Linked DNA regions of Homo sapiens. The protein of the gene in region 4 purifies or fractionates together with the protein of the main gene of each other region. This does not show direct contact. Each region holds a gene or a part of one and is shown on either strand. Other genes may lie near its edges.

Region 1 (3,500 bases), on a different chromosome or scaffold from region 4:
CTGTGTGTGAGACCTGCAGCTGTGCGAGACTTGTAGCTGTGTGAGACCTGCAGCTGTGTGAGACCTGCAGCTGTGTGAGACCTACAGCTGTGTGAGACCTGCAGCTGTGTGAGTCTTGCAGCTGTGTGAGAGACCTGCAGCTGTGTGAGACCTGCAGCTCTTTGTCAGTGGCATCAGATGATGTCTCATGACTACTTAGTAATTGAGGCGATGATGTTCTTCTAGGCTCTGGTCCTCTCTGCTCTGGCCTTGTCCCACCCCTTTAGCTAAGAATAAATGTTTAAAAGTAAGATTATTGATTAAATATAATTGTGTAAAATACATTACTAAATTATATTGCCAGCATCATCCATCAGTTCTTCAAATGATTAATGCTGTTGGTTTCTACATGTGTTTTGGAACAGCTTTCCCTTGTAACTTGAATTTGACTGTGCATTGCATTTAGATAGTAGCTCCACATTCAGGTCTCACATCTGGTTTTAAAGTACCGCTGCACTCACACACATGATAGACCTGGAGCACAGTCACTGTTGAGTAAATGAGTTTTGTGTGAATGGATGACCTACAGATATTACATTTACTTTTGTGTAACAAATGTTTCTTACGTGTGTTGATGTACGTACACAAAAACCTTTCCCTAAACATTTGGCTAAGCTCAGTTATGTTTGAATAACTAGGACACGTGACTTCCCTAGCTGACCAGAATTAAGTTATTGACATATGAACAGGGACATTTGACAAAGCAGGAGGATTGATTAAGAAAGTCATGTCCTAGCTTATTTCTTAATATATCTCACTCTTCTTTTCTTACAAATGAATAGGAAGAAACAGAATATATGGAACTTCTGGCAGCAGAAAAACATCAAGTTGAAGCCCTTAAAAATATGCAACATCAAAACCAAAGTTTATCCATGCTTGACGAGATTCTTGAAGATGTAAGAAAGGCAGCGGATCGTCTGGAGGAAGAGATAGAGGAACATGCTTTTGACGACAATAAATCAGTAAGCGTTCCAGAACAGCTGCTTCTTCACCTCCTGAGCCACTCACTAATCAGAAGACATGTTGTTGAAATTGTTCACGTGTATGTTTTTAATGTAGATTGAAAATGAAGACAAACTAAAATGCTTCTCTGTCGTAGAGAAAATAATTTGGTCTTGTAGAAGTAAGCTAATTATCTTTTATTTTCCTTTTATATTTTTAACACCGACAGTCAGTTCCCCTCCTCAGCAGCTTGTCTGCATTTTCCAGAGGCCAGATGGATTGGGACACTGGGACTCTAGTCTCAGGACAGCCTGGACAGTTGGGTTTAATGCTGATCTACTGGGGTGTTACCAGAAACAGGTCCTAATCCAGACCCCAAGAGAGAGTTCTTGGATCAGGGGTAGTCCATAGAGTAAAGTGAAAGCAAGTTTATTAAGAAAGTAAAGAAACAAAACAATGGCAACTCCATAGGCGAGCAGCCCTGTGGGTTATTTTTATGATTATTTCTTGATTACATGCTAAGCAAGGGGTAGGTTATTCATGAATTTTCTGGGAAAGGGGTGGCGGTTTACTAGAACAGAGGGTTCCTCCCATTTTAGACCACATAGGGTAACTTCCAGATGTTGCCATGGCATTTGTAAGTTGTCATGGCGCGGGTGGGAGTGTCATTCCACATGCTAATGGATTATAATTAGTATATAGTGAGCAGTGAGGACGAGCAGAGGTCACTCTCATTGCCATCTTGGTTTTGGTGGGTTTTGGCTGGCTTCTCTACTGCATCTTGTTTTGTCAGCGGGGTCTTTGTGGCCTGTATCTTGTGATATCAGTCTTGGCGACCTCCTGTCTCACCCTGTGACTAAGAATGCCTGTCCCGGACATGCAGCCCAGTAGGTTTCATCCTCATTTTACCCTGCTCATATTCAAGATGGAGTCGCTCTGGTTTGAACACCTGTAACAGGGGAACATTGAACTTCTTATAGAAAATGATCTTCATCTCTGAAGCAGGAATTCAGGCTGCTCATTTGTTGTAGTGTGTTTAAGATTCTAAGAAAAAAAGTGGGACTGATGACGAAAATTGACTGTGGGTCTTGAGGACTCACAAAAAGGTTGGGTAATAAAAACAAATCAGAATAAGATTAGAAAAGAAAGCAGAGAGAATAAAAATAGAGCAGAAGAAACAAGTTGTTTTAAAATCTACTAGTTATGGAATTAGAGGAGAACTCGTATTTTAAGGGCTATGAATTTCTTGAAAGAATGGTGAAGTAGATCTTGGAAAGTAGCAGAAATCCTAAACCTATCCATTCTTAAATTACTTCTTTAATTGAAAAAGAAGTCCTAATTCACTGCTAATGAACACTGATTGATGTATTTTTAACATTCTTCTGTTTAGCGTTCATTCTCCAAAAATTGAAAGCATTTAATGGATTTTAATTGCATAATATTATTATTCTTGCAGGTCAAGGGGGTCAATTTTGAGGCAGTTCTGAGGGTGGAGGAAGAAGAGGCCAATTCTAAGCAAAATATAACAAAACGAGAAGTGGAGGATGACTTGGGTCTTAGCATGCTGATTGACTCCCAGAACAACCAGTATATTTTGACCAAGCCCAGAGATTCAACCATCCCACGTGCAGATCACCACTTTATAAAGGTAGTGAGTCATGGTGGGGATGCCTGCCTTCCCCCAATTCCTGGTTCATGGTGTCAGTATGACCGAGCTTTATCTTCTGAACAAGGCACAGCCTTCCTTCTAGCAGAGATTTTACTAGAATTCCGTACATTATCTGTGATTTGAGGCATCTTCCCTTAATTTCTAATCTTTTTTTCTAAAGGAATAAGATACTTTAATATTTAAAATGAAAGTTAATTTTGTTTTGGAGAATTTGGAAGACTTTGAAATTAGGAGTTACTGTAATGGGATTAAAGCTTTAGTCATCTAAAAACCATTTTCACTAAAATTAAAAATCCTTAAAAGGCAGAGAGGTCTTGGCTAAGGAGTCATATATGGCTTCATTTAGCCCTGGGGTGCAGAGCATGAGAACCCATCCAGCAGTGCCTGGCGTTCCAGATGGAACTGGATTCAGACCTGTTTCCTCCCAGGAACTTGGTCTAGACAAAGGCTATGCAGGGAGGTACTTGAAGCTGAGAGCATCATGGTTCGGGTGGTCACTCAGGAGGGAGTGGCACGACCATGACAGGTGCAGCCCCTCAGGGAAGCTTGGCAAGATCTGATATACTGTCAGGTCTCCAGCAGAGACTGGAGGTTTGTACAGGAGCAGAAACCAAGCCAGAGAATCTAGGCTCAAAGACGGTGCTATCTCAGGCGAGAGGAAGAGGACTAGCCAGAGAGAGATGTGGTCACGATGGAGTGGGTCCCAGGAGGGCTGGGGCTGCCGAGTGACTCTGTCAGTGCCCTCCAAGAAGGGGTGGAGGTATCTGTAAAACTATTCTTTCTCCCTTTGTAATGAATAATCAATTTCCAGGGAGAGATTTTGAGACTGTAAGTATCCTGCTCCTCACTG
Region 2 (3,500 bases), on a different chromosome or scaffold from region 4:
AATAAAAATTGCTATTTTTAAAAGTCAAGACAGCTATAACGATTTTCTTCCATTTATACAAAGCAAAATAATGGAAGACACATAGATTAGCTTATTTCAGGCTTTATATGAAAACAGTGACAGAATTGTCTAAAGAAAACAAAAACCAAAACTCCTGTCATAATTGATTAGTCTGTAACATTCACATAATCATCATGACCTTTTAAAAAACAGGAAAAAATCACTCAGCTCTACATAATTGGTAAATTCAGAGAAAACTAAATATTGGGGTTTGTGATAACTCATTACTACAAATTTTAAAATTCAAATTCCATTTTTCTACAGTTTTTTCATAATACAGTGTTATAAAAGAGTAAACCTTATGTATTTAAGTGATCTTGCTTTCATTAACATTGTATTTTTCCTAATATTGAGAGGATTGGTCTTTAAGCAAAAATTACATAGTTTACCTAACTAATAAAACAAAAAGGTCAGGTTCAGTGACTCACAACTGCGATCCCAACTACTCGGGAGGCTGAGGTGAGAGGATCACATAAAGCCAGGAGTTTAAGACTGGCCTGGACAACATAGCAAGAACCTGTCTATCAAAGTAGGTAGATAGGTAGAGAGAGAGGGAGGATAGATAGAGAGAGAGAGATTAGATAAATAAATGATAGATATAGACCTGTAATCCCTGCACTTTGGGAGTTTGAGCCCAGGAGTTCAAGACCAGACTGGGCAACTTGGCAAGACCCCATCTCTACAAAAAATACAAAAATTAGCGGAGCATGGTGGCACGTACCTGCTACTTGGAGGCTGAGGTGGGAGGATTGCTTGAGCCCAGGAGGTTGAGGCTGCAGCGAGTCATGATTGTGCCACTGCACTCCAGCCTGGGTGACAGAGCAAGACCTTGTCCTCAATAAATAAATAAGAAAACAAGGATTAAAAGATGGAAACTTTCTAATACTGGGGTTCCTTATCCAGGGCTAATTTATCCTTTAGGCATAGTAAACGTGTGCCTTGGACCAAGATACATATAGGGGTCCACAGAAATATTTTCATTTTTATTTCTTTTAAATCAGAAGTAGTAATGTATATACATGTATGTAATAGCAAACCTATACAGTATTTTATTCGTGTTTATACAGATGTACAGAAAATATAGTCATAAATGTATAGAAAATATAATATTTAATAGTTTTTGTGGAGTAAGTGCCTTACAAAGGCAAAAGGGCCTAGGGCCTTGGGAAGTATGATGCAGCCCTGCTTTTCCTTCTTAAAGGCTTCCTTCCTAAACACCTTTCATCTCTTTATTTTATTCTTTTCCTACACCATGATCTTATGAATACTTAAATTCCCAACTGATTGCTATGTGTATTGAAGCATAATATCACAAAGTACATAAATCAGAAGTGTATATCCATGTAAGTGTACACCCAGATGGAAAAAAGAAGTAATTTTTTTCAGTGACATTATTGCATTGTGACCTCAAGTTCAGAGCAACATTCTGTGCCCCTAGAATACCGTGATAGCTGCTAAACTAGTCAGGAATTTTTTGTTTTCAGGCATGCAGTGGTGTAATTATAGCTCACTGCAGCCTCGAGCTCCTGGGCTCAAGTGATCCTCCCAAGTAGCTTGGATTAGAGGTTTAGCCACCACGCCCAGCACTAATCAGGATTTAAATATTAATATTTAAGGTGTATGAAATGTGCAGATAATAAAACTGTTTTCCCAGCTTTTTATTAACAAATACTCCCTTCTGAGGCAGTGTTTGAATTACTCAATTAGAGAAATTTTTCTCCCCACAGCTCGATGCATTCTATTTCTCATCATTTGGCTCATAACTGGAGGAAGGCACCACTTTTGGTTCTTGCCAAATCTGACTGCTGATGTGGGCTTCATTGACTCCTTCAGGCCTCTGTACACACATGAATACAAAGGACCAAAAGCAGACTTAAAGAAAGATGAGAAGTCTGAAACCAAAAAGCAACAGAAGTCCGACAGTGAGGAAAAGTCAGACAGTGAGAAAAAGGAAGATGAGGAGGGGAAAGTAGGACCAGGAAATCATGGAACAGAAGGCTCGGGGGGAGAACGGCATTCAGACACGGACAGTGACAGGAGGGAAGATGATCGATCCCAGCACAGTAGTGGAAATGGAAATGATTTTGAAATGATAACAAAAGAGGAACTGGAACAGCAAACAGATGGGGATTGTGAAGAGGATGAGGAAGAGGAAAATGATGGAGAAACACCTAAATCTTCACATGAAAAATCATAATCTGACTAATTTTGGGACTGAATGAATAAGTACAAGAGGTTGGATTTTCTATGTTGGCTGATTACCATATTGAACACATGGCATTTGTAGCATTCTTTAAATCTATCTACTGAAATGTATTTGACATTCAAGCAGTTATATTCGGTCCTTCATTTTATAGAATATTGGCACTATTATTGGTACAGTTTAAAGCCATTAATATGTTTTATCCATTTGATAATTTTACAGTAAGTAGGTCTCATTCATTTTGACAGTTATCAAAGATGTACTTTCCACAGTTAAATTTACATTAATGGCAATTTTTGATAGTTTTATGGCTTTTTACTGTTAGACTAATCAAAAATAACTTTAAAAGGAACAAAGAAACTCCAACATTTCACATTATGCATAGTTATGTAGCCATTTCACAGTTTCTTTAAGATGTGTAAACTCATTGTCCTTGATAGTTTTTATTTTTCATTATAAAATTATACCAGGAGATTTCTTTTAAGATTCTGAGTTAGCAGAGTTCAAAACTATTTTGTGGAAACAAGCCAACTAGTAACAATGCAGCAACACTTCTGGTTTAGCTAAATTATTTTTCCAATGTAGGAAATCCACACTGATTTGTACGTCTGACTGAGAGAAAGATGGTCGTCTCCAGCAGAGAAAGTGAACAGCATTTGTTGGAAGGTGATGGCTCTCCCTCCTCCCTCCCCATTTCATTGGCGTAACGTAAAGTGTATTCTGTACATAATTTACAAATAAAACATTTTATTTTAATTGTTACTTATTATTTAGATATTTCTCAACACTTAAATTCATAAAATTAAGACCATGTAAGGGTATGTTTTTAGAGAAATGGAAGTTTGAGTAACCCACAGAACATCTGTGATCTTTCTACAGCAGCTTCAGTTTTGTGCCAACATTCCATGTATTTTGAATATGAGCAAAAACTGATCTTAAGAGCAGACTTAAAGTAGCTTTGTACGCCTTAATGTTCATTTTGATTTATTTTAAATCTTTACATTCAGAAATGAGATACTGTATTATCAGACCAGGAGGCATTGCTGTGAAAGATAATTTCCTATTCTAAAATATCAAATTTAAAATAAAGATAATGAAAGAAAACATAAGAGAACTATTGGACTCTAATTGCTTTGAACTAGTTTTGCAGTTTGACTTTACGTCTTATACATCTTAGTTACAAGTCTTTGGAAACTCTTGTTTACTTATGAGCATAATCATTCCTTGGAGTTATACT
Region 3 (3,500 bases), on a different chromosome or scaffold from region 4:
TATGATAAACTAGCAGCTGGAAAGCCTCAGAGAGGTAATGTTTATGGTAACCTTGAGATGTCACATAAGTTTCATTTGCAAGAAAGAAAAGGGCGCTAGAGCAGAGGGAACAGCATCAGCAAAGGCAGACAAGTATTAAAGTGCACTGAGTGTTCTGGGAATGACAAATGGTTTGCTGTGGCTGGAAAACAAGGTGTACTTTGGGAAGTCTTTCATAGATACTCCAAATAAATCACTTTAAGTATTTAATGAACCATCTTCATCCTTACTGAGGGACCTCAAAGTAAGTAAGAAACTTAAAATTCAGGGCCCATGTTACTCTACCATGATGAAAACTTGGTCTCAGACAACAGTGGGAACCCTCTGCTCTGAATGACTGGGGTTCACGTGGCATGATCACATCTGAGCTCTATGAGGCAGCTCAGCAGTACGGAAGATGGACAGAGGGACGCAGAACCTGGAAGAGAGGACCGGTCATGACAGCAACAACCAAAGCAAGAGACAATGACAGCTTGATCAAAGCAGAGGGAATGGAGGGAAAGGTCAGGGTCAGGACACAGATACGTTAGCAGCAGCATCAACAGGTCTGGAAGCAGGGGGGCGCTATAGAAGAGGAAGTTAAAGATGACTCAGGTTCATCATTTGACTAGCTAGAAAATGAGGTCATTAACAGAACCAGGGCAAGACAGAGGAGGCACTAACCTGAGAGGAAGATGATGGATTTGGTTTAACACACATTTAATTTGATGTTGTCAGAACACTGGATATCTACAGCTGGTGAGGGTTTAGTTTTCATTGGTACACGGGTCATAGCTGAAGCCATGGGAGGCTAAACCAAGAGACTAATACCATGGATGCCACGGGAGCCAAGAAGAAAAGTGTTTCAAGAAAAGAAAAGGAGATCAGTGGCTGCCAAAGGCCACACTGAGAGGTCAAATGACCTAAGGATTGAAAATACGCATTAAACTGAACTCAGCACACAGATGTTACACATAATCTTGAAAAGTGGTAAAGACAAAAAGTCTGCTGGCTGGGCGTGGTGGCTTACGCCTGTAATCCTAGCACTTTGGGAGGCTGAGGCCGGAGGATCACTTGAGCCCAGCAGCTCAAGGCCAGCAGGGGCAACATGGTGAAACCTCGTATCTACAAAGAATACAAAATTACCCAGGCATGGTGATGCATACGTATAGTTCCAGCTACTCAGGAGGCTGAGGTGGGAGGATCGCGTGAGCCCCAGGAGATAGAGGCTGCAGTAAGACATGATTGCTCCACTGCACACCAGCCTGGGCGACGGAGTAAGACCCCATCTCAAAAAAAAAAAAAAAAAGTCAGTCAGCAATGGGTTGTAGAATGAATGACAGGGGGAAAGGAGAGGTGGGAGGTTGAAAAAGTAGAGGTAGAGTGGCAACCACACTTTCAGGAATTCCTACCCTTTCAACACAGCCTGTGCTATCACATCTTCCTTGGCTTAGACAGATACATTTGACAATGCAACTACTTAAGATCTTCAACATCCTTCTCGTGCCCAGGGCCAACTACCTTCATGTCAACAGCGCCACAACTGCTCACCTACCTACAGAGATAGCCACATCCCATATTTCATCAGCACATGGCCCATCTCCTGTCATCTCTTCCTATCAGTTTACATGTTATCGCTTCCATTCCTACCAAATCCAAATCACCAACTGATTAAAACTTTCTACTACTCTCAATCGCCAGGTTACAGGCTTCCAAAATCAGCTTGTGCTTTTCCTTCTTCCTCATCTCTTAACTCTGGAATCAGTTTTAAGTGACAACTCCCTTACCAGGTCTTCCTCTCAACCACTAATTACACATGCAAGAACAGGCAGGCCCTTGTCACATCCACACAGGCATGGTGTAACATCTGGTTTCCCACATCTAACCTATACACAGCAGATTAAGTTTCCTTTAAGGAAAAACCATCCAACAAGAGAAAGCCAAACTCCCTAGGGTAGTACTGGAGACCCTCCATCATCTAGCCACAAACTACCTTGATAGCCTTCTCTCCAACTACTTCTTCACATCCTTCTCTTCTGAAACTTCCAAACTTCTGAAACTGCTAGGGAGCCTAGTTTACTCCTTCCCTAAAGCTCCCTTTGAACACCCAAGACCTCAACAACATCCCTACCACAATTTAATTGCCCACTATGCCAAGAATTGCTCTAGACTCTTGGGATACATGAACAAAAGAGAGATTCCCTAGCTTTATGGAGCTAACATTTTAGCAGGAGACAACAAAAGACCAACCTCATTAATAATATTGAGTATATAAAATGTTAAAAAATTGTACAAAAAGAGAAGTAAAGCAGGATGTCAGGGACTGGAAGTGCTGAAGTGGCATTACCATTTTAAACAGGGTGGTGAGGGAAGGCCCCACTGGAAAAGTGACTCGAGGCTTAAAGGTTTAGTCAAGCAGATTCTCAGGGAGAGCACGGTCCAAGCAGAGGCAGGGAGCCAGGCCAAAGGCCTGGAGCAGGAACATGCCCAGAAGGTCTGAAGAGCAGTAAGAAGACCGAGGGAGCTGCAGCACAGCCAGTGAGAGCTAAAGGAGGTGAGCTAGAGGGGAGATGTGACCCGTCTCACAAACCAGCTTGGATGTCAAGCAGACAGCTGGAGACTCGAGAACTGGAGCTGAGGAGAGAGATGTTGGGTTATAGGTGTCCTGGATGAAGGCACTAAGTTCGAGGCCTAGAGTGTTCCGGCTATGAGATGAGGAAGAAACAACCTGTGCGACAGGAGGAAAACCAAGAACACACCTTAGTGTCCCAGCGGCCAAGTGACGAAAGGCTGAACTGCAGAAGGGGTACTCCACTTGTCTGACACTACTGACAGATCCAGTAAGATAGGGACTGAGAGCTAACCACTGGATTTAGCAACACTGGATAAGCAACACTTATCACCTTGATAAGTGAGATTAAGAGAGAATAATGCCAGGCGTGGGGACTCACATCTATAATCCCAGCATTTTGGGAGGCCTAGGCAGGGGGATCCCTTGAGCCCAGGAGTTCAAGGCTGCTGTGAACTATGGTCACTCCACTGCACTCCAGCCTGGGCGACAGAGCGAGATCCTATGTCTAAAATTAATGAGCAAAGGGAAAGTGAGGAATTAGAGACCAAGTACAGGCCACTCCTTCCTGGGGTTTTGTTGCAAAGGGGAAAAAAGAAATAGGGCAATAACTGGCCAGGAAAGTAGGAGTAAAGGTTTCAGATAAAAAAAATACCATGTTTGTGTACTACATGTATATGTGTACATAGGTATGCATATAAAGCCCTAGAAAGTCCTACGCACCCAACAAATGTTTATTTCCTTCACTCTCACTTCACACCTATCATTTTCTATTATCTTTGTTGCTATATATGTGACCTTTGTAACTGTCTGCAAGAAACTTTCACTTGGAAGGCCCTTTCTTTGTCCCAGTGTCAAACTCTTCCTCATCCTTCAAGACTCAAATATACCTTCCTGGGAAGCCTTCCCTGAC
Region 4 (3,500 bases):
ACTCGAGAGGCTGAGGCAGGAGAATTGCTTGAGCCCAGGAGTTCAAGGCTGCAATGCTGCCCCTGCACTCCAGCTTGGGCAACAGAGCAAGACCATCTCAAAAAAAGAAAGAAAGAAAAGAAGAATAAGAAAATCACCAGACAGAGAAGGAGAGAGATGAGCACTAGCAGCAGCCTGGAACAGGAACCTCAGCTCCTACACCATCAACGGGCACCTACATCCCTGCACCCACATCTTAGCTACACAGCCATCCCGCCCTTCAGTCAAGGCCCCTGGGTATCCAGGGAAGAAGGGGAATGTTGAGAGAGAGGTGACTACTGGCCCAGCCCCCTCCAGCCCTCTCACCTGTTGTGGGGCTCTCCAAATTCCAAGCTTCTGAACACTACCTTCCCAATGTTAATTACATCCAGAACCCCCTTTAATCGTATTCATTTTTGTTCAATGGATCCAATATTTTTAAAACATATTTTCAAGGGAAACTATAATCCACTGGATTAAATTTAAAACATGCCCTAATTAAAAAATTAATGCAAAAATAAAATCGAAGGAAGCAATGTTTTTTTATGCCTTCTGGCTAGAGACGGCCGCCAGCCTAAGGAAGGATCCCCAAAGGAGCCGGTTGTGTCCGATCTTTGTTAAACAAGAGGAGTCTGGGGAGAAGCACTAAAGACGCGTTAGCACCTAATGGAGGCTTTCTCCGGAAAGTCATCAGAGGGTGGGGAGGAAGACTTTCGCTCTGTGATTTAGCACTTCATACTAGGCAACAGCAGCCTCCAGGGCAAAATTCAAGTCCTTTGGCATCGCACTGAGGCTCTGTTGTGACTTAACTCCTGCTGACCTCCAATTTTATTATAACACCACCGATTCCCCCAACCCTCAACATACATACACACACACACACACACACACACACACACACACGCACACACACACACACTATAGTCTTTGTGCCCTGAACTCTACCAAACATACCAGGCCACAGAGTCTCACACCTCCAAACTTTTGCACTTGTGATTCTCTCTCCTTGGAAAACCTTTCCTGACCTCCTCTACAAAGCTAACTCCTACTGGCATCATTTGCACCCCTTCCTCCAGGAAGTCTTCCCTGACTGCCTCCTGTCCCTGTACCAGTATCCCCCAAGGTGCTTAGCATCCTGTGTGGCTTCTGGTGTTGCTTCCCTGCCAACCCCATGGAATGTGCAGGGCTGGGACCCCATCCTAGTCCCCACATCCTCTCAGAACCCAGCATGGTCCCCAAACTTCCAGCACAGGGTGCACAGGTATTTGTTGAGTAAACAGAAGGATGGATTGAGAAAGAAATGAAGGCACCAGAACACTCTGGGACAGAAGGAAATCTAAACTAAACCCTCTCTGTGCTCTGGGAAAAAGTTCTAGGCAGAAGCTCCTGTCCAATAAGAATCAGTCAACTTGACTCAAATTGGCCTCACCTACTCATTGGTCCACAAACTCTGGGCCAATGGCCCAGCCTCTATTCAGTTTTCTCGCCTGTAAAGTGGAGACAGTAGTATTGCCTATGATAGAATTGAGCTAAGAAAAATAAACGTAAAGAGCTAAGTACCCAGAAAGCACCCAAGTCTTAACTGCAATCATTACTATTTTTATCAGCATCTAACACTCACCAAATCAAAGTTTTATAACTTGTAGGGACTCAAAAGATGATTAGAAAAGCAACTGGCAGACTTTCTCTTCAAAGGCCAGCAATGTGGGCTCTCTGGTCTCTATCACAACTACTCCACTCTGCTTTTGTTACACAACAGCAGCCACAGACAAAATGTCAATAAATAAGCATAGCTGTGTTCCGATAAAACTTTATTTACAAATACAGGTAGCGGGCCGGATGTGGCCTATGAGTGGTAATCTGCCAATTTCTGATCCAGACCCTCACTATTCCAAATGTGGTCTTTAGACAAACACCATCAGAGGCCCCTGGAAACTGGTTAGAAACACAGTCTTAGTCTCTGCCCCAAACCTGCTAATCAGAATGTGCACTTTAGCCGGGCGCTGTGGCTCACGCCTGTAATCCCAGCATTTTGGGAGGTGGAGGCAGGCAGATCACTTGAGGTCAGGAGTTTGAGACCAGGCTGGCCAACACAGTGAAATCCCGTCTCCACTAAAAATACAAAAATTAGCCGGGCATGGTGGCAGGTGTCTGTAATCCCAGCTACTTGGGAGGCTGGGGCAGGAGAATCGCTTGAACCCGGGAGGCAGAGGTTGCAGTGAGCCGAGGTTGTACCATTGCACTCCAGCCTGGGCAACAAGATCGAAACTCCATCTAAACAGAAACAAAAACAAAAACAACCAAAAACACAGAATCTGCACTTTAACAAGTTCCCCAAGGGGATCATATGCATGTTAAGATCTGAGAGGCCTGGGTACTCAACTTCATAGGCTGACATCTCACGTCAGAGATGTGGGTTACTTTTTCTTGCCTGATGCCTCCACCAGAACGTAAACTCCAGGACAACTAGGACCTCGTTGCTTCTTAAATCTTGCACCCCAACATCCAGTTGAGGGTTCTCATGTGTCCTTATTCTAGTGGAAGACGTCACTCAGTGGCTATCCGTGCAGTGCTGGGATCAAGGCATGACTTCCACTGACAGCCTCTGAAGTTGGGCAGATGGGCTTTGAGTCCTGGTGCTGAATCTCAGGCCTGTGTGACCTCGGGAAAGTGACTATTTCCAAGCCTTGGCTTCTGGGAAATGGCGTGGTCAATAACAAATATCTCACTGTGGGGAACAACAGTTAGGTAGGGGCCTGTACCAGGTAAGGTGGCACGGCACCCTAGCGCCCAGAGACAGGAACTCCCCACACAGGGAGTATGCAATGGGGACAACCTCCAGTCCCAGCACTCTGGGAGGCTGAGGTGGGAGGATCGCTTGAGCCTGGGAGGCAGAGGTTGCAGTGAGCCGAGATCACACCACTGCACTCTAGCTTGGGCAACAGAGCGAGACTCCATCTCAAAAAGGAAAAAAAAAAAAAAAAAGAACAAAACAAATAAAAGGCCAGGCACAGTGGCTCACACCTGTAATCCCAGTACTTTGGGAGGCTGACACGGGCAGATCACTTGAGGTGAGGAGTTCAAGACCAGCCTGGCCAACAGGGTGAAACCCCGTCTCTACCAAAAAAATACAAAAATTAGCTGGGCATGGTAGTAGGCACCTGTAATCCCAGCTACTCAGGAGGCTGAGGCAGGAGAATCACTTGAACCGAGGAGGCAGGGGTTGCAGTGAGCCAAGATCATACCACTGCACTCCAGCCTGGGCGACAGAAGGAAACTCCATCTCAAAAAAAAAAAAAAAAAAAATGCCTTGAGGGCTTAAAATGGCAGACAGGGTATCAGGAGGCCTCAGACAACCTCCAATATCCTAGAAACACAGAGCTGGAAGGGCTCTTGGAGCGTGTCAAAAAAAAAAAAAAATTGTGCCATGCGCGATGGCTCACACCTGTAATCCCAGCACTTTGGGAGGCCAAGGCAGGCGG

Evidence for each region. The genes of interacting proteins can lie anywhere in the genome.
Region 1: the proteins of TPST2 (region 4) and SLC9D1 purify together in Homo sapiens (affinity purification with mass spectrometry; one large-scale study listed by BioGRID and IntAct). This does not show direct contact.
Region 2: the proteins of TPST2 (region 4) and SEC62 purify together in Homo sapiens (co-immunoprecipitation; 2 studies listed by BioGRID and IntAct, with this or other methods). This does not show direct contact.
Region 3: the proteins of TPST2 (region 4) and XPO6 purify together in Homo sapiens (affinity purification with mass spectrometry; one large-scale study listed by BioGRID and IntAct). This does not show direct contact.

The regions. Positions count from the first base shown.
Region 1 is NC_000013.11:113,497,521-113,501,020, forward strand, and holds part of SLC9D1 (transmembrane and coiled-coil domain-containing protein 3 isoform 1 precursor), read left to right. Parts: intron 1-821; coding exon 822-1,001; intron 1,002-2,437; coding exon 2,438-2,629; intron 2,630-3,500. UniProt on the Homo sapiens protein: Probable Na(+)/H(+) antiporter.
Region 2 is NC_000003.12:169,990,807-169,994,306, forward strand, and holds part of SEC62 (translocation protein SEC62), read left to right. Parts: intron 1-1,787; coding exon 1,788-2,257; 3' UTR 2,258-3,500. UniProt on the Homo sapiens protein: Mediates post-translational transport of precursor polypeptides across endoplasmic reticulum (ER). Proposed to act as a targeting receptor for small presecretory proteins containing short and apolar signal peptides.
Region 3 is NC_000016.10:28,201,966-28,205,465, forward strand, and holds part of XPO6 (exportin-6), read right to left. Parts: intron 1-3,500. UniProt on the Homo sapiens protein: Mediates the nuclear export of actin and profilin-actin complexes in somatic cells.
Region 4 is NC_000022.11:26,580,133-26,583,632, forward strand, and holds part of TPST2 (protein-tyrosine sulfotransferase 2), read right to left. Parts: intron 1-3,500. UniProt on the Homo sapiens protein: Catalyzes the O-sulfation of tyrosine residues within acidic motifs of polypeptides, using 3'-phosphoadenylyl sulfate (PAPS) as cosubstrate.